7 linked regions of the Homo sapiens genome follow. The protein of the gene in region 3 interacts with the protein of the main gene of each other region in a biochemical or structural test. Each region holds a gene or a part of one and is shown on either strand. Other genes may lie near its edges.

The links.
Region 1: the proteins of FRMPD2 (region 3) and SIPA1 interact in a test that uses a peptide from one of them, tested with the Homo sapiens proteins (one large-scale study listed by IntAct).
Region 2: the proteins of FRMPD2 (region 3) and GYPC interact in a test that uses a peptide from one of them, tested with the Homo sapiens proteins (one large-scale study listed by IntAct).
Region 4: the proteins of FRMPD2 (region 3) and MKNK1 interact in a test that uses a peptide from one of them, tested with the Homo sapiens proteins (one large-scale study listed by IntAct).
Region 5: the proteins of FRMPD2 (region 3) and SEMA4F interact in a test that uses a peptide from one of them, tested with the Homo sapiens proteins (one large-scale study listed by IntAct).
Region 6: the proteins of FRMPD2 (region 3) and PDZRN4 interact in a test that uses a peptide from one of them, tested with the Homo sapiens proteins (one large-scale study listed by IntAct).
Region 7: the proteins of FRMPD2 (region 3) and CRB2 interact in a test that uses a peptide from one of them, tested with the Homo sapiens proteins (one large-scale study listed by IntAct).

The regions. Positions count from the first base shown.
Region 1 is NC_000011.10:65,636,919-65,640,900, forward strand, and holds the start of SIPA1 (signal-induced proliferation-associated protein 1), read left to right. Parts: upstream 1-1,182; 5' UTR 1,183-1,264; exon of another isoform or gene 1,265-3,912; 5' UTR 3,913-3,982. Other genes in the region: PCNX3 (pecanex-like protein 3), read left to right, coding at 1-60. UniProt on the Homo sapiens protein: GTPase activator for the nuclear Ras-related regulatory proteins Rap1 and Rap2 in vitro, converting them to the putatively inactive GDP-bound state. Affects cell cycle progression.
Region 2 is NC_000002.12:126,662,658-126,666,157, forward strand, and holds part of GYPC (glycophorin-C), read left to right. Parts: intron 1-3,500. UniProt on the Homo sapiens protein: This protein is a minor sialoglycoprotein in human erythrocyte membranes. The blood group Gerbich antigens and receptors for Plasmodium falciparum merozoites are most likely located within the extracellular domain.
Region 3 is NC_000010.11:48,156,062-48,159,696, forward strand, and holds the end of FRMPD2 (FERM and PDZ domain-containing protein 2), read right to left. Parts: intron 1,310-3,635; coding exon 1,261-1,309; 3' UTR 501-1,260; downstream 1-500.
Region 4 is NC_000001.11:46,569,769-46,573,268, reverse strand, and holds part of MKNK1 (MAP kinase-interacting serine/threonine-protein kinase 1), read left to right. Parts: intron 1-1,101; coding exon 1,102-1,206; intron 1,207-1,729; coding exon of another isoform or gene 1,730-1,852; intron 1,853-3,013; exon of another isoform or gene 3,014-3,500. UniProt on the Homo sapiens protein: May play a role in the response to environmental stress and cytokines. Appears to regulate translation by phosphorylating EIF4E, thus increasing the affinity of this protein for the 7-methylguanosine-containing mRNA cap.
Region 5 is NC_000002.12:74,660,747-74,664,246, reverse strand, and holds part of SEMA4F (semaphorin-4F isoform 1 precursor), read right to left. Parts: intron 1,516-3,500; coding exon 1,422-1,515; intron 1-1,421. UniProt on the Homo sapiens protein: Probable cell surface receptor that regulates oligodendroglial precursor cell migration. Might also regulate differentiation of oligodendroglial precursor cells. Has growth cone collapse activity against retinal ganglion-cell axons.
Region 6 is NC_000012.12:41,565,820-41,569,319, forward strand, and holds part of PDZRN4 (PDZ domain-containing RING finger protein 4), read left to right. Parts: intron 1-11; exon of another isoform or gene 12-487; intron 488-1,963; coding exon 1,964-2,080; intron 2,081-3,500.
Region 7 is NC_000009.12:123,366,197-123,369,696, forward strand, and holds part of CRB2 (protein crumbs homolog 2 precursor), read left to right. Parts: intron 1-30; coding exon 31-170; intron 171-975; coding exon 976-1,161; intron 1,162-1,376; coding exon 1,377-1,490; intron 1,491-2,582; exon of another isoform or gene 2,583-2,692; coding exon of another isoform or gene 2,693-2,750; intron 2,751-3,500. UniProt on the Homo sapiens protein: Apical polarity protein that plays a central role during the epithelial-to-mesenchymal transition (EMT) at gastrulation, when newly specified mesodermal cells move inside the embryo.

The sequences.
Region 1 (3,982 bases), on a different chromosome or scaffold from region 3:
GCCCCTATTGAGGAGCGTGAGAGCCCGGCAGCCCAGCCCCTGCTGGAACACCAGTACTGAGCTACCTGGCGCCCACTGGACCACCTCCTAGGATTCAGTAACGGACCTGCTCTGCTGCCTCTCTGCTGGACCACAGAACTGAGTGGCTTTGGCCTACATGTCTGAACCCTGACCTTTGGCTGCCTTGGCCAGAGTACCAAAACTGAGTGACCCAGACCTCTGACCTTGACCCCTGATCTCTCTCATCCCCAGTCCAGGGCCTGGGCTCCCCAGATGGAGGCAGTCAGCCTCCCAGCCAGGCCCTAAGAGCCAAACCATGGGCTGGTCCCACTTGGAGCCTGTGGCCAGGACCACCTCAGCCCCTGGGCCTGCACTGCCTGCAGGTGTGGCCCCCTTGGCCTGGACCTGGGGCCTGAATTGTGGGAAGGGTGGTTTCTTTCTTTCCTTTTTTTTCTTTTCTTTTTTTTTTTTTTTTTTGTGCTTCGGAGACATCAGAATTAATAACACTATTTTTGATTTTGGTTGGCAGTTTCTTTTTCTACCTGGGAATGGGTACATGATAGTACAGGCGGCTAAGTTGGGATGGACAAGCACGCAGAGGGGTGAAGGATGTGGGGCTGAAGTCTAGTAGAGATCAAGGGCAGACCAAGGTGGGGTTCAGGTAGAACCGGGTCCTCTTCACCGCATGGCTGCTCCCTTTTCAAGCCTTTATCTGAAGGGTATTGTCTGCCATTTCCCACCATATGGTCAGACTTCCAGGTCTGGTGGCTCCTACATTTATCAGGCTTGTTCTTGGCCAAAGCCTTTCTCTGCACCTCAGCTGCTCCAGGGCGTAAAGAGATGACACCTATCTAAGGTGTTTTTAGAATAAATGAGAGCGCGCTAGTGGAATGGTTGCCCAGGGCCCAGTGCTTAGCAAGTGCTCCATAAAATAGTGGCAGACTCTTGAGCACCTGCTGGCCGGGAGCTGGACGCTAGGTGGCCTCCGCTAGCCCTCCCGGTTGGTCTGGAAGGCAGGCACAAGTTTCTCAGGAGAGGAAATGGCCTTAGAATGAGCACTGCTCGGTGCTGACCTCCGCCAGGCCTGGAATCCCCGCTGCTGCGCTTCCCGCCGCAGACAGCTCCCGGCCGGCCCCGCCTCCCGGCATGGCCCCGCCTCCCAGCATGGCCCCGCCCCCAGGCGGAGCCGGCGCCGGGAGCGGTAGCGGGAGAGCGGCAGCGGGACCCCAGCGCGGGCGGCGGCGGCTGGGCGGGAGCCCCAGAGGTACTGGCGGGAGCAGGGGACGGGAGGCACTACTGTCGGGCCCGACAGGGGAGAGGTGGCCTAGCCGTGGGCCCGGGTGATGTGTATGGGAGTGGGGTCCTCGCCACGTTCGCCGCCAGCACCCTCCCAACTTCCCTCCGGGCTCCAGCTCAGTCCCGAGTCAATATGTCCAGCCCCCTGTCTCTGACCAGCCGTTCCTACTCTCTCTGTGTGACGGCTTAGCCTGGCCAGCCAGCCGGTGAGTGGAAGCGGCGGCTCCTGACTCCTGGTGGCGGCACTGTGACCCCCTCCCCCTCAACACTGCAAGTGTGTGCGGGGCTCCCCCTTATTCTGAGGCTCCTCTTCTTCTTAGGCGGCCTCCACCCCAGTCCCTGGCCTGGCCTGGGAGGAAACATCTGTCGCGCCCCCTGGCAGCCGAAATGGGGTCATGACCTCCAGATGTGCTGGGAAGTGGCCAGCTCCTCCTCCTGGGGCAGCCAGGCCTTCCGGATCTGTGGGGGCGGGGCCGGCCCTTTCCCCCCACCCCTAGTGACACAGGCCCGGAGGAATGTCCTAGCCTCAATGGACCCTGTGTGAAGCTTCAGGGTGGGGGGCAGAGCCCGAGAACACCCCTCAAGGCAGCGCCAGAGCCTGGCACTGGGCCACAGCAAGAGGCAGCGCACAGGCTGGGTGCACACATGCACAGATCTCACTTCCAAGCGTGCAGAGCTCAGCCCACAAGGAGCGGGGCTTGCACAGACCCCCTCCCTCATGCCCTCCTACTCCTTCACACACTATAGCCCAGGCCCGAGCGCTGAATGTGCCCAGAGCTTGGCTCATGGAGCCAGGGGCTACACCCGTCACACACACACATAGCTAGCGACACTCACCTCATTCTTCTCAGTCTCTCAGCAGCCTTGGGAGGGGACAGAAATAATTAAACCCAATTTTTTTCTTTGTTTTTTTGGAGACAGTCTCACTCTGTCCCGCAGGCTGGAGTTCAGTGGCGCGATCTCGGCTCACTGCAACCTCTGCCTCCCAGGTTTAAGCGATTCTCCTGCCTCAGCCTCCTGAGTGGCTGGGACTACAGGTGCGCACCACCACACCCGGCTAATTTTTATGTTTTTAGTAGAGACAGGGTTTCACCATGTTAGCTAGGCTGGTCTTGAACTCCTGACCTCAGGTGATCCCCCCGCCTTGGCCTCCCAAAGTGCTGGGATTACAGGCCACAGCCACCGCACCCGGCCAGTTAACCCCATTTTAGAGATGAGAAAACAGAGGCTCAAGGTCAGCATGGGAGTTTATTCAGGAGAAATCAAGGTAGAAGCACCTGGGCTGGGGAGCCGACTCTTGCTTGGTTCTGGAGGCCCCAGACGAAGGGTGTGTGGAGCCCCTCCTCCACCCCCCTCCGGCCCAGCCCCGCATGATGTTGCTGGATGCTGCATGAAGACCCACCATTAGATGCCTGTACCCCCAGTGGAGGTTCCCCAGCTCCCTGTCCTCACTGCCTACTCCATCCAGGGCTTGCCTGGGTGTGGCTTCCCTCAAGTTCTCACACCACCATTTGCACCTGCCTCTGGCGTCACGTTTCCGCACTTAGCAGGTCCCTGGGGCTTTGGGTGTCTCAATCTTGCATCCTGTGAGACCTTGAACCTCAGCCCAACACCCACCCCCCAAAACCTACGCACACAGACAGCAGTGGGCAGGTGCAGCCCTGCTTAGGGCCTGGAGATGGGCAGACCCAGGCTCACATCCTAGCTCTGACACGGAATTGCTTCAGGCAAGAGCATCTCCTCTGGACCTCATCTGACCATCTGTCACATGGGGTTCAGACCTCCCTGTCTGCATCAGTGAGACCAGGTAGGCAGAGGTCCCTATGGGTCCCTGTCATTGTGACTCCTCTTGCCCCCAAGCCTGGGCACAGTAGCCTGCAAGAAGGTGAGTTGGCCTGTCCTTCAGGGCAGGGTGACTGGGGTCCCATGACAGCTGCTGTGACCCCAGCACCTTCCTCAGGATGTGGGGGCCTGGCAGAGGGCTGGGCCCACAGTTGGGGCTACTTCCTGTGCTGAAGGAAGTCCTCTTGCCATTCCTGCTGCCCTGCCGCTGCCTCCCTGGGAACCCATGTGTCCTTGTGGTATTGAGGCCTTGAGGTCCAGGGCACTGAGATCAGACCTCTCTGGGTGATCAGCTCTCCAGGGACCCTGAAGGAAGTGGGAGGGGCAAGGAGGAAGGTCTCTGGGGACAGGACGTCCTCCCTTTGTTAAGTGGGCAGGACCCAGACACCAGTGGCCCCTGGGTTTCCCGTCCCAGCCAATACAAGTCATCTGTCCGGTTGGGCTAGGTCCTGGTGGGACCCTTACTCTGGGCCCAGGCCAAAGCTAAGGTGTGTGGGTGGCGACTGGGGGACCCTGGCAGTCCCAGGGCTGCCCAGGCTCCAGGACCCTCAGGACCAAGACCCAACAGCCCAGCCTCTAGCCTTGCCCAGCTAAGCTGGGGAGGGGGCTGGAAACTTTAGCCCTAGGCAGACAAGGAAGTGGCCTGGAAAGCGGAAGCAGCTTTGATGGTCTCGGAGGGGGCCGGAAGCCAACACGGGTGGTGGAGGACCAGGCTGGGGGCCTGGGTTCCTGTTTTCTGCCCAGGCCCCTCTGAGCAGCCCCCTCCTCCTTCAGGGCAGGAACTGCTGCCACAACCTCAGGCTGGGCACCAAACACCCGTGCCCGCCAATGCGGCCCAGCCCCC
Region 2 (3,500 bases), on a different chromosome or scaffold from region 3:
CATGTTTTTATTTTGCACTGGGCTCTGCAAATTCTACGGCTAGTCCTGAACCTGTCAATGGAGCTAATAACAGTCTCTACCTCAGGGCTTTGTTCGGAGGATTCAGTGCATTCTCACAGATAAACATCCTAGTGTAGTGCCTGGTATGTGCTCATAATTGTGCTTAATTGCTTCCGCTCACTGAGTGTGTGCGTGTGTGCTTAAACGCCAGCTTCCTCCCCACTGCCCTGCTCCCTCCTTGCTCTCCAGACTCCTCAGATGTTTGCCCCTTTGCCACTGAAAGTCATACCCAATGACAGGGGGCCATCTGCATCTGTGTGGTCCCACAGAGACCAGGGAAAGGCCCTCTCGCTCCCGATGCTGCTCCTTCATGGTTTTTATTGTTTTTGTTTTTCTTTTGAGATGGAATCTTGTTCTGTCCCCAGGCTGGAGTGCAGTGACATGATCTTGGCTCACTGCAACCTCCGACTCCCTGGTTCAAGCAATTCTCCTGCCTCAGCCTCCCGAGTTGCTGGGATTACAGACATGTGCCACCACGCCCAGCTAATTTTTGTATTTTTAGTAGAGATGTGGTTTCACCTTGTTGGCCAGGATTGTCTCAATCTCCTGACCTCCTGATCTGCCCACCTTGGCCTCCCAAAGTGCTGGGATTATAGGCATGAGCCACCACGCCCAGCCTCCTTCATGTTTTTATCCAAGAGTCAGCACTGCGGTGGAGACAGCCCAGAAAACACACGCAGGCCCTGCTCTTGGCCACGCACGCCAGCTGTGTGATGGGGAGCAAGCCTCTTACCTTCCGGAGCTCCATTTCCTCACATCACCCTGGAGAGAGGTCATCTTTGCCCCCACCTCATCGGGGCACCAGCCCCTCAACCACTCATACCTGGGCCATCTGGTTCTCCATGGAGAAGAGTAGGCTCTTTGAAAGCACCGTATGAGTGAAGGAATGAGTGAATGAGTCAGCAAACGGATGGAGGGATGTGAAGGTCCATCCATGTAGGCAAACAAGGTCTGCAAAGAGTGCCCTGGGCCCCAGCATTCACTGCACCCTCTCCCTGCCCTGGGCAAGGCCCTGACCCTGGTGCACTCTAAGCTCCTCTCAGCTCAGCCCCTGACCTCTCCCCTGTCTGCCAGTGCCCCTCCCCTGAGTGTGAAGCCGGGGGCCTCCTTCCCTCGGCTCACCTGGCCCTCATGCGCTCTACCTTTCAATGTCTTCTTTAGGCAGTCATTTCTCCTTTTTCCTTCATGCTCCCCTTTGAATGGGCTTGGAGCTGGGTCTCTCTAAGGTTCTGGTCTCTCTCTCTCTCTCTCTCTCTCTCTCTCTCTCTCTCTCTCTCTCTCTCTGGAGAAAGCTCCTTCTCAGCCTTTTCCAGCTTTTCCAGGTCCCAAACTCCTGGGAGGGGAGCCAGGCCTTGCTTGATCATGCCCTGGATGGATTTGTCATATTAATCCCTTTCCTTCAACTTCGGCAAAACTTCTCATTTTAGCGAAATTAATTTCAGTTATGGTTGAAAATCCTGAGTATTCCCTTTTTAAAAAATTTTCATAGTCTTTTTTTTTTCTTTGTCACTGATTCTTTACACTATCCTGAGCCATCCTCCTCATCTGGTGACAGTAGCCCTGTCTCAGAGAGTAGAGATGAGGCTCCACTCCACAGACGCCATCTCATTTAGCCCTCTGGCAGCCCCAGGGAGGTATTTTTATCTCCATTTTGCATGTGATGATACCGAAACTAGCAAGTGGATGTGACTTCCAGAGAACCTACCAGCCCCTCACACCTCCTTCTCTTCCCCCTCTACATTGAAAGCTCAGCCAGGGCCTGACCCCAGACGCAGTGCTCAGAGACCACAGTGCTTCTAGAGGCCCACAACAGTATTAGAGCTTCTTTTAAAATCAGAAGGAAGGAAATGAACCTCTAAGATCAAATAGTACATTTGCCTTTATACCAGTGCAGCTATACAATATGATTTCTAATATTTGGGAGGAGAAGGGACCCATAAGGTAAAGCACCTTGGCCCATGGAAGTCACCCTGTGACCTGAGCTCAGCCCATTGGAGGTTGAGGGGCTGAAGCCCACTGCCTCTGCTCTCCCTGCCTGAATCTGCCCCTTGCTCCCAGGGCTCTGATCCTCCTCTACGTTGGCAGTCCTGGTTCCTTAGCAGTTCTGTCTGTCACGGGAGGACTCCCTGGGCTGGGCATCTGCAGGGGCAGCCTCTACCTCTCCCTGTGGGACTTCACTAACACAGCTGGAGTAGATGCTAGGGAGGCTCAGGTCATGCACTACTTGCTGTCTTTCTCTCTCTCTCTCTCTCTCTCTCTCTGTGTCTCTCTCATTTTCTGTCTCTATCTTTCTCTTACTCTTTTGGCCTTTTAAGTCAGAAGAATAGGCTACTCTTCACTTACAAGTTTAAAAATAAGTTGTCTTTGCCCTATTTCATTATTGCAGAAGCAATTCATGTTCATTGTAGAATTGTAGGAACAAGATCAAGAGGAAGGATGTAGGAAGAATCTCTATGGGGAAGAGGGTGACTTTGAGATACAATCTCTTGCCCTGATCTGAGCTTTCAGTTACCTAAGGTACAGTACAGTAAGATACTGAGAGAGAGAGAGAGACTAGTTCATATAACTTTTATAGAGTACGTTGTTACAATTGTTTTACTTCATTATTCATTGTTGTTAATATCTTACTGTGTCTAATTTATAAAATAAACTTTATCATAGTTATTCGCATATAGGAAAACTATCATGTATGTAAGGTTCAGTCGTATCTCTGGTTTCAGGCATCCGCTGGGGGTCTTGGAAAGCATCCCCCATAGGTAAGGGGGAACCACCGATTCATGGGACAGATAGATGATCACCCAGTGGCAGCTCGAAGGGAGATTAGGGCACAGATAAGGCTGGAGGACATCAGTGTAAAGAGGCCACCCTGTGAGGGGCCCAGAAGGGAGCCCTGGAGACCCTCTGGGTGCATTGATCACCTCAGATGGGGGCCCAAGGGATGCCGACGCAGGGCAAAGCACTACAGCAGACTCGGCACAGGTGCCTGGGGCTGTGCACGCCCTGGCAAGCGCCCACTCTGCCCTGCTCCGCACCTAGTGAGGACGTGTAACACACACAGTGCCTCCTTTAATGCTGAAGGCATCACACAGATGCAGATATTATTAATTCCAGTTTAGGAAGACAAAAAGTGAGGCTCAAAGAGGTGATTTCCCCAGTGCTTCCCTGTGCATCACTGACACGCTCTCTCCTGGAAGCCAGGTGTGTCTTCCTCCAGCTCTGGGACTCTGCAGCCTGCCCTGCTGGGAGGGGGCTGCCCATGACCCCTTGCCCTTCTGCTCAGATCGTTACAGCCCTGAGGTCGCTCTCCTGGCCTCTGAAGAAAAGGCCTTTCTTTGTTCCCCCCACACCCGGAACCACTTGTGTTCCCTCTGCCGTCCTCCGCAGGCACCCACCTGTGTCCCAGCAGCTGCGAATGCAGTGCTCAGAGTGGTACACAAGGG
Region 3 (3,635 bases):
CCCCAGTCCACCCAGCCAGAGTGATACCCACCTGAGGGCACCGTATTCCAGGGCCACAGGCTCCTCCAGGTCTTCCCATTCACTCCCACTCTCTGGGGACTCTTCTGGAGGCAAAGACTCTGGGACAGTGCCCCAAGAGCAGAACTGTGGCAAGGGAATGGTCCCAGAATCTGCCTCCAAACATTCTTCACAGGGTAGCTGGCCTTGGCATGTAGAGTTGATGGTAAGATACTCTTCATCCTCCGAGGTGGGAGAAGGGGCTCCACATGGATGGTACATGTCACCTTCCCCATCCTCCCCATCCAATTCAGGACTAGAATACAGAAGCCCATGTTTCTTCCAGCCTTGATAAAAAAAATTCCTCACCCCACCTTCCCCTTGCCTTTTAGAATACTCTGCACGACACAGGCCCGTGAGACTCAGCCAGTGTTCAAACAGCTCATGCCAGAGGCTGCTCTGGGCACCAGGAAGCAAGAAACTTATAAGGCACCAACCCTGGCTTTGAGGAGCCCCCAATTTAATGAGAAGTTGGAGCAGTAAAGAAATGTTACAGTCCATGTAGGAAGTGCTATGATAGAAGCAGCTGGAGCACCTTACCGAGCTCAGGAGACCGGGGGGATGGGGGGGCTTGCCAGAGGGCACAGCATTGCAAGCAGGGCAATGACCCAGTTCTAAGACAGACTCGTCACATGGCAAGCAGAGTCGGTCAGACTTTGGACAAGTTTATTGACTTCTTTGGAACCTCAGTTTTCTCATTTGACAAAACTAGATGGTCAAGAAGCGTCTAGGATTATTGGGACACGTAAATTACATAATTCTGACACAGCCCCCCCAACTCTGGGTTCCTGGTATGGGGTAAGTTTTTAGTAAATGTGAGATGCTGTGATTAGTACTGTGAATATGATGGCTATTTCAACAGAAGAATTATAAAGAAAGGGCTTCAGGAAGGGATTGGGAGTGACTCAAGCAGGCAACCATCAAAGCACTTTGTGCAAAGATCAGGTCCTTTTCTGAGCACTGAAAATTTGCCTATTTAGAGATGCGGCAAGCTGAAGTGACATTTACTCCCCGCGGAAGGACACAGGAGGCAGACGAGTGGTGAAGCTCATTATCTGGTGATGCAGCCGCAGACGTAATGGTCAAAGAACAAGACTTCCAGGGGCTGCCCCAAGTTCGCCACACACGCCTCTTGATTAGAAAGAATAGTCCATGCAAAGGTAGGGCATTTTACACAGCACTGCAGACATGCAGAGAAGGTGCTCAGAAAATATCTGTCGAAAGTCTGGTTAGAGGAGATGAGAAGGAATATCTAAGAGAAAAGCACAAAGATTTAGCAAATACATGGATCCTCATTTCTCAGCCTCCTTACCCCCACCCAAATCAATGGGTTGGCTTTATTATGTGCTGCTGCTCTCCTTCTCCTTTCCTGCATTGCCTCTTTCTCTTAAAATTGGCTCTGGTGCACCCCAATAGCTACAAACCCTTAGATACCCAGAGAGCACGTCCTCCTCCCCAGTAGAGCCGGAAGCATCTGTCCCAAACTGAGCTTCACTGTGAAAGAGACATTATTTCCACTCATGAGAGCTACAAGGTATGTGAAATAGTGAATTTCATGTAAATATATGCACACTCAAGTGTATAAAAAAGAAATTATTCTACAAAGACTGAAGAGGAACACTCACTGTCAAAAGACATTTTTAATTCTTGAGCATTTGCAGGGAAAATTGACTTTAAGCTTGGCTAAATCATGTAGAAACTGTGTTTTCTTATAAACATGGGAAAGAAACATTCAAGAAGTTTTATCAAAGAATGGGAAATCTAGCCTATTGCCCAGGCCTAGGCTCACCACTGTCCCCACCACCTCAAGCAGCACCCCCTTCCCTCCGTTCTGAGCTCACTAAGCCTTGTTGAGGAGTGGAAGATGGCAGCTGTGTGTGTCCATTGGCCACTGCAGCTGCCTCAGTGTCCACACCTCACCTCCCACCCGTAGACTCCCTCCACCTCTTCTAATAAGCTCCTTGCCCTCTGGTTTTGATTCGGAGCTCCAGCTACTGGCTCTGCCTGGACAGAGACCTAGGGAAGCCATCAGCCTGAGAGGCAAGAGGCAAGGCTTCATCTGAGGTTCAACCAAAGAAAAAGCGATTTGCTCCCCACTTGTCCAGGGGGACTTGGTGGTCCCAAGGGTGAAATCTTGGCCATCATCCCACCACAAGTTGGGAGAACGACTGCCTTTCCTTCTATCCTTTTGCACGTGCCATCAGGCTGCCCTTGGAGATTTGACCTGGGGCTCAACTGTGGACATAGGGAAAGGGTGAATAGGGAATAAAGAGGCACCAGAAGCCTGTATGCCTATTTCACGGAAAGGGCAAGACTTGGAAATTTGGAGAATTTCATTAAGATAGAGACATTCTTTCACAGCAAGCCTCATGTTTTGCATGTGGACATGATGGGTAAAGAGGTGGAGTTCTTCACCCAGGGTTCAAGGCCGGCCAGCTCATGGCTAATGTAGCAGGACTTTCAGCAAGACCCTGATGCTGTCGGAGTACACGGGGCTCTCTGCTCACCCCCTGATTCTGTGTAATGATCTCAGCTTCTTCCTGCCCTCACTCTCTGCCCACCAAGCTGTCCAACAGAAGGAGGCTTTTATAGACAGATGATAACTAGAGGAGAATCTGGAGATTTCACGTGGGCTTCCTGGCCAGCCATGTCTCCCATACAAACCAGCAGGACCCCAGAACCAGGGTCCCCACCAAGTCCTGAAACTCTTCAGTGGGTATTTTTAAGAGGAATCCCAGTTCAGCTCTGAAGTCAGTGAAACCATTCTGAAGGCTCTGCTTGCTACAGAATGTTTACTGAGAAAAGACACTGTGCCCAACTTTTCTGGACAGCTGTCCTTTAAAGACTTGGGCCACCAAATTCATCTCTGCCTTTCAGGAGGAAATTCATAGAAGCAGATTGGGCATTTCAGGCTTGAAATATGAAGGTATTATAATTGTCCTATTTACTTACGGTTAAACTCACAACAAAGTTTGGGGTTTGTGTCCCTTCATGTCTCCAGTTCTCCAACATCAGGCCCCATATTGAGGTCTCCATTAGCCCTGATGACACAGCTGGGAGCCCCAGGTCTCTGCTCCTGACAACTGCATTTAGTTTTGGCAGGTTGGATTTACAGTATCTCTAAGACATCAAAGTAAACAAGTTCAACGGACTGCCAGATTTGAAGCTCAGATGATAAATCTGAGCTGAAGTACAATACTTAGGATTTGTCACAGTAGTGTGGACAGATACCCCTGGGTATCTGGGGATACCCAAGGATAGCCCTGGGAGCCTGTAAGGTGTAAAGAGAATCCTGCTAGAGGCAGCACCCAGGATCCAGCCCAGGCTCTGCTGCCTCCCTCACTCCCCTCAGCCACACTCCAACCCAAGAGCAGGCATGACATCTCCCTCACCTGGCAACTGCATCCCTCCCTAACTACTCTGACATCACACCTGGCCTGGCCCCTGCAGTTGAGTGAGATCTCTGGCCTCCTAATTATCTTTTGCTATTCCAGGCAGTGCCCTTCCCCAGAAGGTATATCATAACTTTAGGTTCATTTCCAGGAGTCCTGCTTTATTTTGCTTTCTTAAATAAATGA
Region 4 (3,500 bases), on a different chromosome or scaffold from region 3:
ATCCCTGCAGCAGTCAGACCACAAGTCCTGCTGGGGGATGTCTGCACAGACTCGGAGGCCTGACTGACGCCCTGGGCCTAAGTCCTGGCCTCACCCCTTACTGGTGCGTAATCTTGGGCAAGTTGCTCAACCATTTTTCTTTTTGGCTTCAGGATCTCCCTCTGTAAAACGAGAATAAGTGTACTACCCATTTTGTCCAATTGTGGTGAGAATAAGACAGTTTATTTCAAGAGTATTCCATAGCACATGGCACTAGTAACTACTCAGTAAATGTTAGCCATTGCCAACAAAACAATAATGAATGGGAAAGCTCAGGCGGAAAACCCATTTTTCCCCCCTTTTCCCAGGCCTTTACATGTCTGGCAAGGGTGTGGCATTTCCATTTGAAAGTTTGTGCTCTTGTTTGGATCAGAGATCAGATGCAGGGGAGAAAACGTTGCTGCAGAAAGGCCCCCTCAGCTCCAAGTGCCTTCAGTTTTATTCCTTTTGATTGCAGAAGCCAAATCAGCCTCAGCATCATTAGTGTTTTTTGGCCCTATTTATAGTTGTTCTCTCTCGCTTCTGAGCTCCTCATAGACAGGTACAGAAGAGAGTAGTCCAGTTTTGTTTAACAGACATACAAGCTGGTACCTCCTCCGTACCAGGCCCCACACTTGGAGCTGGACAGGTAGTGATGAGTCAGCGATGAATCCCTATGTCCCCACCCCAAGTTTTCCAAACTTGGGAAAACTTGGCCTCTAAGAAGTTATACGGCCAGGCGCAGTGGCTCACGCCTGTAATCCCAACAGTTTGGGAGGCTGAGGCAGGCGGATCACTTGGTCGGGAGTTCGAGACCAGCCTGACCAACATGGTGAAACCCCATCTCTACTAAAAAAAAAAAGTACAAAAATTAGCTGGACATGGTGGTGCCTGCCTGTAATCCCAGCTACTCAGGAGGCTGAGACAGGAGAATCGCTTGAACCCGGAGGCGGAGGTTGCAGTGAGCCGAGATCGTGCCACTACTCTCCAGCCTGGGTAACAGAGTGAGACTTCGTCTAAAAAAAAAACTTATACTTACTAGAGCCCAAAAAGGCATTCTTCTATGTCCCCTCTGCTCCCCAGGTTCCATCTTAGCCCACATCCAGAAGCAAAAGCACTTCAATGAGCGAGAAGCCAGCCGAGTGGTGCGGGACGTTGCTGCTGCCCTTGACTTCCTGCATACCAAAGGTGAACCCAGCCTTTGCCTTGGTGGGTGGGTTGGGCTGGCCAGCCTCTGGGTACCAAGGGAGGTGGTAGGCCAGGCAGAGGGCTGGTGCAGGAGATGGTGTGGCTGGAAGGCAGCTTGAGGTGTGAACATGCTCACCCATGGGAGTTGAGGGAGAAACAGTCCAGGATGGCTCCTAGGCTTATGCTGCGGATGGTGGGTGGGTGGTGAAGCTGTTGAGCAGCACAGGGATACAGGAGAAAGAGCAGGGAGGAGAAAGAATAAATTTCACATTGAACAGGGTATGTGTGACTGTGTGTGGATGATGTTTCTTTTCTTAGATTCTTATCGTGTGAGGAATATAAAGCTCATACACAATACAACCTTCTTAGTGTGAATATCTTGATGTTATTCCTTCTAGTCTTAAAATATACATCACCTCTGTCTCTTTTCAAAATTGGCATGATAGGATATATGTAGTTTAATATATCTTGTTCACAGTAAATGAAAAATCTATTTTTCTTTTTCCTTTTTTTTCCTTTTTAGACAAAGTCTCTCTCTGTCACCTAGGCTGGAGTGCTATGGCGCCATCAGGGCTCACTGCAGCCCCAACCTCCCTGGGCTCCAGTGATCCTCCCACCTCAGCCTCCCAAGTAGCTGGGACTACAGGTGTGTGCCACCACCTGGAAATTTTTGTATTTTTTTGTAGAGATGGGGTCTCCCTCTGTTGCCCAGGCTGGTCTCAAACTCCTGGGCTCAAGCGATCCTCCTGCCTCAACCTCCCAAAGTGCTGGGATTACAGGTGTGAGTCACTGTGCCCAGCTTATACTTTTCTATTAACATGTACATTTGAGGTATCTGTTGAAAAGCACATTGGTAACTCACAGGTTACTAGTATTTGATTTACGCTTCAGGTTACAGCCCCTTTCCTATGACTGATTATTCAGGAACTTTTGTAGTGAATTAAATCTTTCCACAAATTGTTTTTACATTTCCATAAATCTGTTTGACTATTACATACTTTTTTTTAAATTTGCCTAACAGCAGTACCCTGGAAAAAATGAATTCTGGTTTCACTTTTCTTCTAGCTATGTGTTCTCTCAGTAATAATGCCTACCCTATGGTGAGAATTTGAGATAATAACATCATCGACTGTAGTTAACACTATATAGCACTTGGTATGTGCTAGGCACTATTCTAAGCTTTTTATAGATGAAAAATGTGTATCTTGTGTTTGTATTGTATATGTGCAGCATAGATGGAGCATAGTTCCTGGTATGTCATAGTTCTTCAATAAATAACGATTTCCTCCATCCTCACCTCCCACCAGGAAGAAAGCATTTTTATTCCTAATATTAATTCCCTTAAAGCATTCTGCCTGTTGGGGGTGGGAGTGAAATGAATAACTTGTGACTTAGGTCTGCCCCCTCTGCTGTTGCGGATGTTGGCCAGCCATGTTGGTTGTGGGTGCCCGGGACCAGTGGTAGGCATGCCACTCACACATCCCACCTGGTGCCCACAATCCGGTGCAGACCAGTGTGGCGCATGTCCAGGAGGTTCAGGTTCATTGACCCCACCTCCCTCCTCCAGTGGCTGAAAGAGGTCTGCATACTGACAGTGCCCATGTTGGGGCCCTGACTTGCACCTAGGATGAAAACTAGAAGGGGGTGTCTGTACCTTCCGCAGCATGATGAATAGCATCAGCTCTGTTTCTGAAAGCTGGGATGCATAGAGGTAACACCTGCCTGACAAAGATTTACAACTGCTCCCCAAGCTGCCTCTGTAGATTGCAAAACTGGGTCACGCTTTTTACAAGATCCACACCTTGGAGGGGGTGGTAAAGGCAGGTTTTATTATTTATTTATTTACAAGAATGCACTGAAGGGAACAGAGGCCGGTGGTGTCTTAGGAGTTCTGAGGCGCTTGTTAACATGTAGCTGGCCAGCTGCCCATGTGACTAGAAGTTGGAGGGGATGAAAAACGATTTCCAGCTGAACTTGGCTGTTTGCTAAATAACTTCACACGGGGAAGATGAATTGGGCAAGAATGGGTCAGCCCTGAAACAAGTTCCATACTTTTAAATACTGGACACACTGCAGCTCAACCTCTGGGAAATGAACCGGAGCAGCTCGATGGCTGCTGTGCTCACACGGCAGCCCCATTATTACAGCCTGGCTCTCTGAGTTCTTAGGCTAAGGGACGACTGGGCCATGGGCGCCTATTTGGAGAGTAAGGCTCCGTGTGTGGCTCGTGATCCTTCTGTGGGAGCACTTGCTGTAATGGAAAATATCTTCCACTTTTAGTGCAGCGAGCTGCA
Region 5 (3,500 bases), on a different chromosome or scaffold from region 3:
ATTACATCCATGTAGCATGACATTTAAAAGTTTTATACTGTGCACATGCTCATAAAATTTCCATTAACCTGCTTTACACTACCACAAGAAAATGGCTTTTCACTGAATTTGGAAGGTGCATGTTGGGTGGTCTGACCTAAAATTCAGGCTATGTGGCACAAAAAAAATTTGCTGTGTGGCTGCTAATAAATTAGACAGTCATTCTCCAGAAGAGGTTTAGGTTTGTGATAGAATCATTTCACACTTGAGGAATCACAGGCAGCTTGTTCAAAAGAAGTACTAGCAGGAATTTATTTAATAGTCATTACTGACTCCCCTGAGCAACAAAGGACTGGCAGCAAATGTATGTGCATGAATGTACATGGGTGTGCACACACATTAATATCCATTTAGGATATGATATGGCTTGGATGTTTTGTCCCCTCTAAAACTCACATTGATATGTGACCTCCAATGTTGGAGGTGGACCTAGTGTGAGGTGTTTGGGTCATGCAGGCAGATGTTTCATGAATGGCTTGGTGCTGTCCTGGCAGTAATGAGTGAGCTCTCACTCTGAGTTCACAAAAGATCTGTTTAAAAAAGCACCTCCTCCCTCTCTCTCTTGCCCCCTCTCTCACTATGTGACACACTGGCTCCCCTTCACCCTCTGCCATGACTGTACGCTTCCTAAGGACCTCACCAGAGGGAGATACTAGCACTATGCTTCATGTCCAGCATCCAGAACCATGAGCCAAATAAACTTCTTTTCTTTATAAATTACCCTGTCTCAGGTATTTCTTTATAGCAACACAAATGGACGAATACAGGGTATTAGGAAATATCCTAAAATATTAGCAATAATTTTCTAAGTAGAGATATTTTAGAATTACACTAATACGGTACCACTAGACACACAGGCCTATTTACGTAAAATTAAATACTATTTAAAATTCCTTCCTTCAGTCACACTAGTCACATTTCAAGGGCTCTATAGCCACAATAGCTAGTGGCTACTGTATTGGACAGTGCAGATGTAGAACATTTCCATCATTACATAAAGTTCTTTTGGAAAGTGCTGTTCTAGAAGTTTTCTTCATGTTCTTCTTTATACTTTTTCCAAATTTATTACAATATGCATTGTAGTATATTCCACTTATTAACAGGAATAAAAACACTATGAGAAAAGAAAATGAGGTTAAGAGAGGAAACATTACACTAGAGGTGCAGAGGACACATTCTGTGGAGAGAATCCTGGGGATATCATACTAGGTGGGGAAAAGCAGGTGGTTACACAGGCACTCAGGGAAGAACAGGAAAGGCTAAAAAGAGACATGAGAATAATAGACATTCCAAGGTAAGAAAGAACACAGAAATTCTAACAGCAAGGGTGGGGAAGGAGGCAATTAGCAAGAAGTTACAGGTTCTTGTCTCTCCCCACTCACCAGCCATTACAGCTGCTGACCGCTGAGCTGGCTCAAAAGGACATTTCCCCCGGCCACTCTCAAGTCTTTCAACCTGCTGGAACCTGGACACATCCTATAGACCAGAAGGGGGCAATTGGTTTAGGGGTCATAGGGAAGGTTCATGGTGAGAATTACAAAGATGGTCAGATGAAGGAAAAGGTCAATTCCCATTCCTCTCCCCTTCCACTCCCTACCCCCAACTATCATCCCCATATTACCAGTCAGCTATTCCTGATGCCCCCATCTACTCCTGCATTTCTCATCTCTGCTATCCTTTGTTCATCAGTTTATTCCTCTTCCCTCAATTCCCCCAGCAGCCAACACCCACATGCCCTGATGAAGAAATTCCTAGGACAGCCCAAGAAGCACCTAAGAGGCTGAAGGTAGGTCTTTCCTCTGAAACACTGCTGAACTGTAGGGTTTGTAACTGGCTGGAGAATATGCTACATGACAAGAAGGATCAGGAAGAAAGCAGGCCTCCTGAGGACTGGAAACCTTAGAAAGGACAAAGAAAAGTGCAGGCTGATAAAGGACCATCTGAAACCCAGAGGCCTAGAGAGACAAGGGCCATCCTCCTCCTATTCCCCACCCCAAGGATGAAAGACAGAGCTGCATCATACGACCAAGGGCAGAGGACAGGGGAACCAGCAAAGTCAGTAAAGAATGACCTGAAGCTCAGGTCAGAATGTGAGAGTTTGGTAGTAAGTACCTTCCTCACCCAGGGACTCCAGAGGGACTGACATGGGCAAGGAACAAGAGGTGTAAGAGCTTCATCAGGGCCAGCCAGAAGTTACCTTAGTCTAGCATTTGGCACTAAGAGAGGCTTCAAGATAACATCTAAAAACAAGGATGATTTCAACCTAGGACTGAGAGGGAAGTTAACAGTGGCTGGTTGAGAGTCAAAGTTATGGCACGGAAATGCCAGGGATGATATCTTTAGTTCACAAACTGGCGTGGGCATATGGTGTCATTGGAGCCTAATTACTTCCATGGTAGCTGTTGCAGAAATATCGATATATATCCCCTGAAAAATAAGTGTACTACTGGCCCACTCCGATTACTCATCTCTTGTTCTAGATGGCAAACAAGATTCTATTTTACTGAGAGTCTGGAAGAAGGCCTGTTAAAACTTTTGAAGTCCCCAAAAACGGAATGCTGGGTCAGAAGAGTCTGCTGGAATGGAGGACTCCACAGAGGCACAGCACTCCAGCTGTGTGACAGTGGGAGCATCCTCACCTGAGAAGAAAGATGGGTTTGGTGAGAGATTAACAAGATGGTTGGGCACTCTAGAGATGTGGTACTTACCTGCTGCTGCTTCCCTTCTTACCTCTCACCTAAACCATGGCAGTAAACTCCTTTCTCCACATCATCTAGCCACCCCCACCAACCAAGTTATTCTAATACCCACCCAAGATTAATCTGAAGTATTGGTCACTGACTTAATAATAACTTTTTGTGCAAGAGAATGAGAAAATAGTCCACCATTGCCTGGAGTACAACCTCATCAGCCAAACCTACTTATTTTCAACTACTTTTCAAAATGACCTTTGTTCTATCCAAACCAGATCACCTGTTATTCCTGGAAGACAAATAATGTTTTCTATGCCTATAACTACTGCCTTACATTTCTCCAAGGACTAAAGGGATGAACTTTTTCTCAGTTCTCATTCTCTTTAACCCTTATGCACCATTTGATACTTTTGACTCACTCCCTTCCTTGAAATATTCTATTCCTTGACTCTCCTGAAACTCTGCCCTTCTGGAATCCCTCCTATCTGTTATTTCTCCATTTCCTTCTTCTTCTTTCTAGCTCCCACATGTGTATCCTAAGAATCCACCTTTAGTAGCTTTCACATATGCTTCAAAGATCTCATTCATTCTTTCCAGCCAGATATTCTATGCAAATCATTCCCCAAACTCTCCAAATCTGATATCTTCTAAACTCTAGCCCATATTTTTATTTGACTGCTGGACTTCCTCACAGAGATTTCCTATCTGCCCCTTAAAACTCAATATGTTGAAACTAGTTCTTTTTCAGTTTTCCCCAGCAGCATCATC
Region 6 (3,500 bases), on a different chromosome or scaffold from region 3:
GTAGCCACTACCTTTGAGACAGTGTAGGTTGTTCCTTTTTCTGAGATGCCACATGTGGCCCCCTTTGGTGCAGATAGATCCCCACTCTTAGTAGTAACAATCCCTCTTTTCCTGCAGCTCAGCTCAAGGGAGATGTCTGTCTCTGCCGTTACATTAGACTCAGACCATAGTGAATGTACATCTAGGTAGAAAGGGGGAAATAGGAGAGAAGAAGGAAGTGAGCAAGAAGAATCTCCCTTTGCTAATTGTGCTGTGTGCACCTCCAGCCTAAAAGAAAGCCTTATCAAAATAGACATATAATGACTATGGCTGGCAACTCAGGAATCTACTGGATTACTCAATAAGAAAAGAGTTATGGGGAATCATTAATTTTGACCATTTTCTCTTTATTTTCCCCACTACTTCATTTAATCCTCAAAGGACTCTGTTTCATCATTCAATATATCAGTGTTAGAAAATACTTTATTTTGACCTGATTAAAGAAAAATTCCTTGATGTGTTTGTGAATAGTAAGCACTCCCCATTTTAAGTAATTTTTTATGATGTCTGGCATTTGTAGCTTTATGATACTTGAAAAAGATTAAAGAATGTAAAATTTGAACAATTATAAATTGGGCTGAATTTACATTTTTACTTGGCATAATTTTCATAGCTCATCTGCATATCAAAGTCACAGGAATTTGATCAAATTATTCAGGCGACATTAAGATAAATGAGGATGAACAAATGTGCCAGCACTTTGGGCCCCAGTTAAGTTTGAGGTCATTTAAGTTCTACATGGCCTTTAATAGATATCATGAAATCTATGATTTGCCTGCATATTAATAAAGATGATACCTGTATGCTAATGCCTCTTTTGGTGCAGCTGAATGTCCTTTCCAGTTTGTTTTTAAGTTGTAGAAGTTCAGTTATGTTTAAAAGCTTATTTTGCCAGTTCATTGGTGGTGAAAATATCTCAAACTATTATCCATGTTTGCTCACTAGAATGCTATTTCTTTGTACAGGGTGATGCAGAGTTTTGACGATAATCCAGTTAATTTAATCAGCATAGACAGCTAATTTATGTAATCCAGCTCCAAAAATCCACTTTGAGGCAAATTATCTGTAGTAACTGTCAACACTGATCATATTAGATCATATTAGCCAGGTAACCACCAGTTTTCCACTTCACTTTGTATTGAAAAGCCGAAGGGATTTGTTCAGTTCAATTTGCATTAAGAGTCCTACAAGAATACTTGTTTTCAACACCCATAAACAAAACCCTGCATGCCCCACACCACTCCACCACCCTTAAATGTCGCATCCACTGAGGTGTTTTTCCTATAAAATTGGGCCTGAAAACAAATTAAAATAGACATGGAGTAATATTGCTTTTCTTTCCTTTCCTTGAGAAGAATAACTTAGAATTTTCCTTTCTTCACAGACAAAATAAATGTCTTCTGTACATTCTTTTGTGGCAAGCAGCCATCTTGTTGACATGGGAGCCCACCTAAAAAGAAAAAAGCAGGATGAGGATAGCACGAGCGTATGGGGGGAACTTTGTGTGCAGTCTCGTTGGGGGTTGTTGTTAAAGAAAACAGCCCAATTGTCTCATAGCCCAATTAGTAGCATGGCAGTCCTTTTAACACGGGACTGTTGGAGGTAATGAGCATGACAGCTGTGGATTATGCAGGATGCTTTTCATACATTTTGAAAGAAGGTAATATTCTGTGCTGTGAGATTTACTTGGTTATGAGAGAAAATCTGTAGTCCCATTTCAGGAAAGGATAAAAGGCATAAGAGTCCTTTTTTTTTTTTTTTATCACCTTTTCTTCTTTCTGAGAGGTGAACTGTGGGAGGCTGGTATTCTGAAGAGAATCATTATGATAAAAGGAACTCGTCGGGCACCGGCCATTTAAGTTTACTCTATTTTAACATGAGTTCTCACTAACATAATATAATGTACTAATGTATTCTTTTGCAGCTGGATGAAGGCTGGCTGGAAGATGAAAGGAATGAATTCTTAGAGGAGTTAAACTTGGAGATGTTGGAAGAAGAGCATAATGAAGCAATGCAGCCCACTGCCAATGAGGTGGAGCAGGTAGGGCCAACAATTTGAACTACATCATTTGATATGTTGCTTGTTCTTTTTTTAATGTGTAACCATAAATGAAGATGAAAACAAAATCAAAGGGTTTAATCCATCATCTCTATCATGGTAATTTTTTAGAGCAAATGATCATCTCAAATGAAGCAGAGGGAATAAATAAAATGTTTTTCCATTAAGAATATATCCAGTTTGGGAAGCTTGGGGACAATTGTTAATACAGTACAGTAGTATTCAAATGTTGACCCAGGCACTACTTCAAACTAATTGCAGAAATTTAAGAGTAAAAAATGTGTGTTGCTTATCAATATGCCAGCTGAAAACAAACTGAGGTAGCTTCCCCAATAAGTAATTTTTTTTACTCTAAAATATTAATGTATCTATTTGAATACTTAGGCTATCACTATAGGATGAAGATGACATGATGTAAGCCATCAGTTTTATTTGCGTACTGGATGGCGTGATTACACCTGTATATTCTGAATAATCGTAGAGATTATCCTTGGTCTTATGGCTGCTGTTGACACATTTCCCATAGTATAACTTGTGCAACATTTCTCATAGCATAGTTTGAGATTATTAACATCATTTTGCCTTGAAGTCACATATTCATTCAACTAAACACTTTGAACTCCTAATATGTTCCAAGTACCCCACTTGAAACTGAGAATAAAAAGAAAAATGAGCAGAACTGCTGTCCTTAATGGATTCATAACTAGTAAAAGATCACAGTGTGATTAGTATATTATTTTTATTGTCTTTTTCCCATTTTACAAAAACAAGTTCAATGTATTCTAGATTTTTTATGTTACACTCATGTCATTTATCTGCCTGATATAATTTTGTTTTCAGTTTACTGATTTGTTTAATTATCTTCCTATTCTCAACATTATTATATGTATTTTATTATATATATATATACGGAATCTTGCTCTGTCGCTCAGGCTGGAGTGCAGTGGCACAATCTCAGCTCACTGGAACCTCCGCCTCCCGGGTTCAATTGATTCTCCTGCCTCAGCCTCCTGAGTAGCTGGGATTACAGATGCCCACCACCATGCCCAGCTAATTTTTGTATTTTTAATAGAGACAGGGTTTCACCATGTTGGTCAGACTGGTCTTAAACTCTGACCTCGTGATCCACCTGCCTCGGCCTCCCAAAGTTCTGGGATTACAGGCATGAGCCACCGTGCCCTGTCTATTCTTATTATTATCATTATTATTATTATTATTTTAAGATAGAGTCTCACTCTGTCGCCCAGGCTGGAGTGCAGTGACACAATCTCAGCTCACTGCAACCTCTGCCTCCTGGGCTCAAGCGATTCTCCTGCCTCAGCCTCCTGAGTAGCTGGGACTATAAGTGCACGCCATCATGCTCAGCTAATTTTTGTATTTTTAGTACAGATGAGGTTTCACC
Region 7 (3,500 bases), on a different chromosome or scaffold from region 3:
CGCTCAGCTCCGCCGGTGCGCCCTCCCCAGGTTCCGGTGCGACTGCGCGGGCACCGGCTACGAGGGCACGCACTGCGAGCGGGAGGTGCTGGAGTGCGCATCGGCGCCCTGCGAGCACAACGCGTCCTGCCTCGAGGGCCTCGGGAGCTTCCGCTGCCTCTGTTGGCCAGGTGTGTGCGTGCAGGTGCGCGGCCTGGCGGGGGGAGGGGTAGGTGTGCGCCTGTGCGGCCTGGGGCGGTGGGGCAGGTGTGTGGCTGCACGCGAGTGCCCGCTGGGTCCTCGGGACCAGAGTGTGTGTGTGATTGCAACCTGTCGGAGCCTCAGTTTCCTGATCTACAAAATAGGGCTGATCGTAGCGCCTGCTCCTGGGGTTGCTGCGGGGAGCTCGAAGGTGCGACGCCTGGGAAGCCCTTGGGGAGGGCCTGACAGCTGCAAAGGGCTCAGTAATTAATGCTAGTAATAGTAGTAAGACTAGGCCGGGCGCGGTGGCTCAAGCCTGTAATCCCAGCACTTTGGGAGGCTGAGGCGGGCGGATCACGAGGTCAGGAGTTCAAGACCAGCCTGGCCAACATTGTGAAACCCCATCTCTACTAAAAATACAAAAATTAGCCAAGCATGGTGGCATGTACCTGTAGTCCTAGCTACTCAGGAAGCTGAGGCAGGAGAATCGCTTGAACCTGGGAGGTGGAGGTGAGCAGAGATCATGCCGCTGCACTCCAGCCTGGGCAACAGAGTGAGATTCTATCTCAAAAAAAAAAAAAAAAAATTAGTAGTAAGACTAGTAATAGCAGTAATAGGCCACTGCTGCTGAAGGCTGCCGTGGTCATTCCTGCGGCCCTTAGTGTGTCCCTCCCTCGCCATTCGTGGCTTATTCCGAGCTGCGGTCCCTTGCTGGCCCTCGCTAGCCTGGTCATAGTGAAGAGGTGCTGCCCGGCAACCCCGTGAGACCTGATGTCCGCGTGTGTGTGCCCCCAGGCTACAGCGGCGAGCTGTGCGAGGTGGACGAGGACGAGTGTGCATCGAGCCCCTGCCAGCATGGGGGCCGATGCCTGCAGCGCTCTGACCCGGCCCTCTACGGGGGTGTCCAGGCCGCCTTCCCTGGCGCCTTCAGCTTCCGCCATGCTGCGGGTTTCCTGTGCCACTGCCCTCCTGGCTTTGAGGGTGAGCCCCTGCTGGGGAAGCGGTCAGCCCATGTCCAGATGCCCAGGGAGGGATCTTGTGCCCACCCCCCCACCCCCCCCACCCCCCCACCCCACACCCCACACCCGAGTCTGCCCTCTCTCTTGGACTCAGTCTCTCTAGCTATAGAATGGACCCTCTCAGCCCCTGCCTGGCTCTGAGGGTGCAGGTGGGACCCACAGCTGGGCCTCTTACAGGAGCCGACTGCGGTGTGGAGGTGGACGAGTGTGCCTCACGGCCATGCCTCAACGGAGGCCACTGCCAGGACCTGCCCAATGGCTTCCAGTGTCACTGCCCAGATGGCTACGCAGGTGTCTGGGGTGGGGTGGGCCCTGGGACCATCAGAATTGGTGGTCCTCAGGTGAGAAGGTCCCTTCTGTCTGGATGTGTGGATTGATGGGGTCAAGGAGATCAGGGAGGAGGTGGGTATGGTGGCCCAGGTGACCGCTGAGGGTGGCTGAACTGGGACTCGCTTTGGAGGTGAGACTGGGGCTCAGGAGTGTAGTCCTGGCAGCTGGGGCCATAGTGGGCTGAGGTTGTCTGGGAGAACGTGTGGAGGGATGGTCTTCAGGGAAGACGGAGGTGGTTCAGCCAGGACAGAGAAGGAAAGGGGGGCTATTGCAGAGAGTTAGGGGGCAGCATCTGTAGAAGGATGACTCTGACCTTTGGGGAGCTGGGGCCTGTCAGGCAGGAGTTGGGGGTTCAGAAGTCTGCCCCTGCCTTGGGTACACGCAGATGCACAGACACAGGACCCCGGTGAGCCCAGGGAGCTCCACCGCCAACACTGAACGTCCCTGCCCCCTCTGGAATGCCTGCGACACCTCCCTCACACCCGCCCGCATTCCTGCTGGGGCACACTGCCTCCTCCCCCTGGCAGGCTCCTGGGCACAGGCTCCTCCACCAGGGGAAAGAGATGGTGGTCACCTCTTCCCCTCTCTCACTCGCCTGAAGATGGTGGGACTCAGTGTCCCCCAGCCCTGGATGGCTGACACTCCTGGGGGTCCCGAAGGCCCATCCACTGCCTCCATGGGCCGAGGTTCCCCAAGTCCTGCTCCAAGAGCCATGGCCTCCTGGGTACCTGGCACACAGTGGGCCCACACAGCACGTCTGGCCTCTGGGAAGCATTTGCTCTGCATTTTGTTTTTTCCTTGCCACAGCCCCATGAGGCAGGGGTTTAAAACCCCATCTTACAGCTGAGAGGATGAGGGGGTGTCATCCCCCAGGTTCACCACTATCAGCGGGAACCCGGCTCCTCTCCCAGTTGAGCTCACTGTTGGGTGACAGGGAGGGCAGACCTCTGAGGTCAGAGCCAGGGAGGGGGGACCCCAGCTGCAGGGCTGGGCTCTTTGCCCATCCTCCCTCCCTTTAGGCCATGCTGGGCATGGGGGAGGCCAGTGCCTGGCATTCCTGAGCAGGCTCCGAAGGAGGCAGCTGGGCCAGGCAGGGAGCTCTGCCTCCTCCCCACTTCCCCAGCCTCAGTGCCCGCCCACCACTCTCAACCTGTCTGGAGGGCATGGCAATGGAGCCGGGGGCTCTGTGGACCTTCCTGGGCCACCTGTGGCTCCTGGCAGGTATGGAGGAATGTGGGCCCTGGGCAGGGGGAGGTTGGTGGGTGGTGGTTCCTAGGAAGAGGCTGTGGTGTTTGTGAGCTGATCGAGGCTGGGCTTCAAACCCTGGTGACTTCTCTGGGCCTGGGTTCCTCCAGCTGGGATGTGGCTCTGGCTGAGCTACAGTGGGCTATGGCTTCTGGACCCAAGCTGGGGCCTGAGCACCTGAAGGGATCCCTAGAGGGAGGATGAGGCAGCCCCTTCACAGCCAGTGTGGGGGCCCTGGGGCAGAGGGACTGAGGGGTTAGAGCCTGGGAGGCCACTCAGAGTGCCTTGGGTACTTGCACTACCCCACTAGCTCCTCCATGCCATCACTCTGTCCATAAAAGCCATGTCAGGCCCTTTGCTGGGCACCAAGGACATATTCAGGTCCCTGAAGATCTCAGCTGAGTAAACAAATACTTTTAATACAGGGTTCTGGGGAGCTGTGCCTGGGACTGCAGAGTGACACAGTAGTTTGAGGTTGGGAGTTAGGGAAAGCCTCTGGGCCCTTTGAGTTTGGGCTTTGCAGGATGAGTAGGAGTTTGAAAGGAAGGGTAAGGGTGAATGAGGCATTCCAAGCAGACAGAACAGTATGAGCAAAGCCCCAGAGTCACGACTTTCCAGGAAATGCTCGGAGGAATGGGACGTTCAAGATTTGTGGGAAGCAGGATTGAGGCTTGAGAGCCTGGTAGGACCCAGCCCATGAGGGTGTCTTAAATGTCAGGGTGAGTG